2 linked regions of the Homo sapiens genome follow. The protein of the gene in region 1 purifies or fractionates together with the protein of each later gene. This does not show direct contact. Each region holds a gene or a part of one and is shown in the gene's direction. Other genes may lie near its edges. The genes, in order: DDX52 and NOL10.

Region 1 (3,732 bases):
AATGTTAGAGATAAAGGAGCAAATAGAGTCACGCATCACTTAATGACAGAGATATGTTCTGAGAAATGCATCGTTAGGTGATATTGTCATTGTGTAAACATCATGTTGTTTACTTCCACAAACCTAGATGGTATAGCCTACCAGTACACCTAGGCTATATGGTATAGTCTGTTGCTCCTAGGCTACAAACCCGTATAGCATGTTACTGTCCTGCATGCTATAGACAGTTGGAACATGTAGACTTGTATAAACACTGCACACTTAACCTATACTAAATTTATTGAAAATATTTTTCTTGGCCAGGCGTAGTGGCTCATGCCTGTAATCCTAACACTTCGGGAGGCCTAGGCGGGCAGGTTGTCTGAGCTCAGGAGTTTAGAGACCAGCCCGGGCAACATGGCAAAACCCCATCTCTACTAAAAAAAATACCAAAAAAAGTTAGCCGGGTGTGGTGGCATAGTCCCGGCTACTCAGGAGTCTGAGGCAGGAGAATAGCTTGAACCTGTGAGGCGGAGGTTGCAGTAAGCCGAGATCGCGCTACTGCACTCCAGCCTGGGCGACAGGGCAAGACTGTCTTGAAAATAAACACACACACACACATTATATATATTATGTATTATATATATTAGATATATATTTTTTCTTCAATAAATTAACCTTAGCTTACTGTAACTTTTACTTTATGAGTTTTTTTGTTTTGTTTTTTTTTTTTTTTTTGAGAAACAGGGTCTGTTACCTAATTTGGAGTTTAGTGGCACAATCATGGCCCACTGCAGCCTTGACCTCTTAGACTCAAGTGATCCTCAAACCTCAGCCTCCCGAGTAGCTGGTACTATAGGTGCGGGCCACCAACACTCAGCTAATTTTTAAATTTTGTAGAGACGAGGTCTTGCTTGTTGTCCAGTTGGGTTTTTTAGATTTTTTTTTTTTTTTTTTTTTGGAGATGGAGTCTTGCTCTGTTGCCCAGGCTGGAGTGCAGTGGCATGATCTCGGCTCACTGCAACCTCTGACTCCTGGGTTCAAGTGATTCTCCTGCCTCAGCCTCCCGAGTTGCTGGGACTACAGGCATGCGCCACCACACCCAGCTAATTTTTGTATTTTTAGTGACAGGGTTTCACCATGTTGGCCAGGCTGGTCTCAAACTCCTGACCTGGAGTGAGCCACTATATCCGGCCTTTATAAACTTTTTTGATTCTTGTCATAACACTTAGCCTAAAATGCAAATGTACAGCTGTAGAAAAATACTTTATTTCTTTATATCCTTATTCTAGAAGCTTTTTTTCTATTAATTTTTGTTTGTTTGTTTTGTTTTACTATTTACTTCTAAAACTTTTTTGTTAAAAACCATGGCACAAACACACACATTATGCTAGGCATACAAAAGGTCAGGATCATCAGTCTCACTGTCTTCCACCCCCACTTCTCATCCCACCATTGTATCTGCTGTCTGTGGCTGACCAAAACATCATCATGTAGCACATGACTAGTGTGGCAAGTGCTCTGTTAGATGTAAGGCCATGATGCTAAAGCATCACAAGAGGGCATCTAACCCAGATTGGGGATGTCATGGAAGGCCGACATCCTGAGTTGAATCCTGCAAATGTAAAAACCAATAGGCAAAGAAGAGGAACAAAAAGGATTCCAGGACAAACTGAGGTCACATCTATGATCCTTGACTTTATTGTGTCTGTTTAAAGTATCTACAGTAACCTGTATCAACTTAGTCAGTGTATTAATACTAAATTTAGCTCCTTCAAAGCAGTTGGAACTATGTGCTACATAAATTTCAGCTTCACACAAGGAAGGGAAGGAGTGAAATTAGTGAACAGGCAGTTACAGCAAAAGAAAAAACATAAAAATTGAATAGCTGGCTCTGGTGAAATGAGCAAGGACTTTAGAGTCAAACTGGCCTGGATTTGAATCCTGATCCTCATTGCTTGTAGCTGTATGATCTGGACAAATGACAGTAACTGTTTCTAACCTTGATTTTCTCATCTGTAAGATGCCAATTGTAACTCCTAAGGATACTGAGGATTTTTTAAAATGCGTGTACAGTTCCTGACCAGTGGTTTGTGCCTAATAACTTATTACAAATTATTACCCAGTAAAAACCTTGAGACAAGAGTGAAAACGTAAAGCTAATTAATCCATTACTTGTTAGCAAGCAAACTACGTGCTTGAGAAAATTACTCAACTTTCATGTTTTACTTCCAGACAGTAGTTTGATTAAAAGAAAAAAAAAAATCACAGCCCAGGCATGTGGCTCACACCCTGGCACTTGGAGGCCGAGGTGGGAGCATAGCTTGAGCCTAGCAGTTTGAAACTAGCCTGGGCAACATAGATCCTATCTCTACAAAAAAAAAAAAAAAAAAAAAAAAAAAAATTGGCCCGGTGTGGTGGTGCATGCCTGTGGTCCCAGCTACTCAGGAGGCTGAGGCGAGAGGATCGCTTGAGCCAGGGAGGCTGAGGCTGCTGTGAGCCATGATCATGCCACTGCACTCCAGCCTGGACAACAGAGCAAGACCCTGTCTCAAAAAAAAAAAAAATCAGTAAAAAATATGCCGAAATAGCTTCAGAGTAATTATGAATTGCCTTCCAAAAACCACTGTTTTGCACTTGCCTGCAAGAATAGGAAAAACAAAAGGACTGTAAGGTGGCAGGATGGCAGAACCAAACAAGAGTAGTACACCTTGGAGTTTTTTCGAAATATGGGTTGGGTTTTTGGGCTCTTGGTTGATTTAAAATAAAATTTAAATGCCTTCAGCGTCTGTGATAGGTGCCAACATGAAGCTACCGAGTTCCAGAGAAAGAGGGGAGAGCTGATCACTCATCAGTGCTGCGAGACTATCAAAGGGCCCTTCAGGACCTATCTGTTCTTTGTGTGTAAAGAGTAACAATAAAAGAACACCAGTGTACCCACCGTATAGTTTAAAAATCAGGACTCAGCCTACTCTTTCCACTAACCGCGATCATGGTTTTCAAACGGAGGACCAACGGCGCTTTGCCACTGGGCCGCCAGCTGGGCCCTGCAGAGGGCCTACCAGACAATGAATCAGCTCCCTTGGAGAGGCGCCCGCGACCGCCCCACCAGCCCGAGAGCTAGAATTGAATCTGGGGGACCCCTGCGGCGCCGGGTCACGTGCCGTGGGCGCGCCACGCCTCCCCGAGGGCCGGGGGAGTCACGTGGGCGCGAGGCCCCGCCCCATCGCCCGGTCCGCGGCGAGGTGGGGCCTGGTGTTTGACCCGGAAGTGGCTGTGTTCAGCTGACAGCTGCTGATAAGGTGGCGGCGGCGAAGGCAGCGGCAGGTCGGGAGCAAGATGGCGCTGCGGCCAGGAGCTGGTTCTGGTGGCGGCGGGGCCGCGGGAGCTGGCGCGGGGTCCGCCGGGGGAGGCGGGTAGGTGTGAAGAGCCGGGCGGGAGCCCGCTGGCCTCCGCGGGGGCGGCGAGGGGCGCTTGGCAGTTATGGCAGTTTTCTCCAGCCCTGATCCTTTTCCTTGGAACTGGGCTGCGGGAGGAGGGTCATCCCCCAGGGACCCAGGCCGAAAGGGGCGTGTGGAGCCCAGGTGCTGGACGCTGGTGTTCCGGGATCAGTTGGGGGCGCCGGCCGCCTGGAATCGAGCGGGGAGCGAGCGCGCGCCCAGTGTGGGAGGGGAGAGAAGATGAGGGTCCTCTTGGGGTGGGGGGGGGCGGGGCAAATCAGGAACCGCGACTCCGCTCCTAGTCCTAGCTGCC
Region 2 (2,361 bases), on another chromosome or scaffold:
CTAGTTTGTAAACAAAGATCTCTAAAAGGAAGTGGACACTCTAAGTGATATCATCTTCTTAAGGTGGCTCTTGTGTAGGCTCTTTTAAAACATCCCAGTGGTTGTGTGAGTGTGTTGGTTGAAAAACCAGTCTCCTACTTTGTAGGAGGCTGGTCTGTCAGGGCCCTTCTCTTGCCTGGGGTTCAGAATTTCTGCTTTTGCATTGATGGTAAAAGTTGGCCTTGGTCCTGCTGTTTCTGCCAGGGTAGCATTTGTCAGAGCAGAGTCCAGGCAGCCCCACCATGTCCCCTGGAGCCTGTGGGCAGCATTTCTCCTGGCAGCAGTTCTGAGATTGGTGGTGGTACTGTTGGCAGCCTGACGGTTACCAGAAAAGAGGTATAGAATTTTCTCTCTTTCCCTCTACTCATTTCATTTTCTCTTTTAGTCTGAACAGCAGAAGAAGCAACAGGAGGCTGAGAAACTGCATCGACAAGAAAGGAAAAGACTCCGTCGTTCGGCCGGACACCTGAAGTCAAGACACAAAAGAGGACGGTCGTTTCATTGATTTGGGAAGTGGTCCTACCTGTGATTAGGGAGGGGTACGTCTCCCCCAAACTGATCATCGTTAGGGTGTTAAACACAGACGAGGAAACACACGTTTTTAAAGTTCATGTACGTTCTTGTACACAGAGGTAAAGATTTGAAAACCTGTGCCTTGTGGGTTGGACTTTGAAGCTGGCCCCGCCGACGGCCACCGCACAGCCCCAGGGGTGTGCTTGCGAGTCGTTGCTCCCTGGAAACATTGTCCTTTCCCCACGGCGTTAATCATGAAAACCAGGCTGGGGTTTTTTTAATATTGTGAAATGTACACCATGAAATGAAAGGTTTATCCTGTGCCAGAAACCAAGGTTTATCATGCTCTAGGAACTTTTTTCTTACACTGCCTACCGCCATTCATGATTAAACCATCCAGAAATACCATCCCTGTTTTACCTGGTGTCTGTGTATTGCCTGTGTTTGTGTTTATAAGTTTATGCTGATAGGTTTGTTCGGCTTGTTTATGTATTAGTTTGGGATTTGTTTTTAAATAATTTATACCAAGAGAGTATAATCTAATGGTGCAGGTTGAGAGCATCCCAAATCCGAAAATCTAAAACTGTTTGAGCACTGTATTTATCTGTTCTTGCACTGCTATAAAGAACTACCTGAAACTGGGTAATTTATAAGTAAAGAAAAGAGGTTTAATTGACTCACAGTTCTACAGGTGGTACAGGAAGCATGGCTGTGGAGGCCCTGGGAAGCTTACAATCGTGGCAGAAGGTGAAGCGGAAGCAGGTATGTCCTGCGTGGCTAGAGCCAGAGGAGGAGGGCAAAGGGGCAGATGCTGCACACTTTCAAACACCAGATCTCCAAGAACTCACTAACACAGAATAGCAAGGGGGAAGTCTGCCCCCATGTTTCAGTCACCTCCCTCCAGGCCCCTCCTCCAACACCGAAGATTACAATTTGACATGAGATTTGTGTGGGGACACAGAGCAAAACCATATCAAGCACTGACATGACATTGGAGGAAAATGCTCATTAGAGCTTTTCAGGTTTTGGATTTTCAGATTTGGGATACTTGACTAGTAAATATAATACAGATATTCCAAAACACACAAAAAAACCAAAGTCTAAAAGACTTCTGGTCCCAAGCATTTCAGATAAGGGATACCCAACCTGTAATAATGGGAAACAAGCAGTAGAGGCTGTTGGTTAATCTTGGCACAAGTTTAATTACAGGTTTTTTTTTTTTCCTGTTTCTTAAGTACAGTCAAACATAAACTTACTGGAGGAAACATTTATAAAAATAAATATACTTTCATTTGAATAGCTTCTTTGAGAAAGACTCCAAGAAAATTTTTTTTTCATTAGTCAAACGGTGGTGTGCACTTGTAGTCCCAGCTACTGAGGCTGAGGTGGGTTGCTTGAGCCTGAGAAGTCGAGGCCAGCCTGGACGACAGAGCAAGACCTGCGTCTCAAAAAAAGAAAGAAGAGAACCAACTTTGGTTTCCTTAGTTTTTCCAGCTTTGATGTGATTTTGGAGGTGCCTTTATAGATTTTTAAGGTTCTTTATATACAACTGAAATAGTAACTCTTTGGACTGTGAATGATACAGCCTAATTTCGAATAGCATAAGCCGAGAGGCAGAATGCATTAATTTACATCACCATGCTTGGGACATGGAACTGGCCTCAGGAACACCTAGATCCATGGCTCCACGGTCAGTCAGCTAGCACATGCGCACTCTATCTCTGTTTCCCTCTTTCTCTCTCTCTCCTTCCCCTACTCCCTCCCTTCCTCCTCCTGTCTCACCATTGTTCCTTCTCTCTTCAGGCCTCC

What was found.
Region 2: the proteins of DDX52 (region 1) and NOL10 fractionate together in Homo sapiens (co-fractionation; one large-scale study listed by BioGRID). This does not show direct contact.

Annotation. Positions count from the first base shown.
Region 1 is NC_000017.11:37,608,942-37,612,673, reverse strand, and holds the end of DDX52 (probable ATP-dependent RNA helicase DDX52), read left to right. Parts: 3' UTR 1-2,935; downstream 2,936-3,732. Other genes in the region: SYNRG (synergin gamma), read left to right, coding at 3,319-3,395.
Region 2 is NC_000002.12:10,570,254-10,572,614, reverse strand, and holds the end of NOL10 (nucleolar protein 10), read left to right. Parts: intron 1-424; coding exon 425-544; 3' UTR 545-1,861; downstream 1,862-2,361.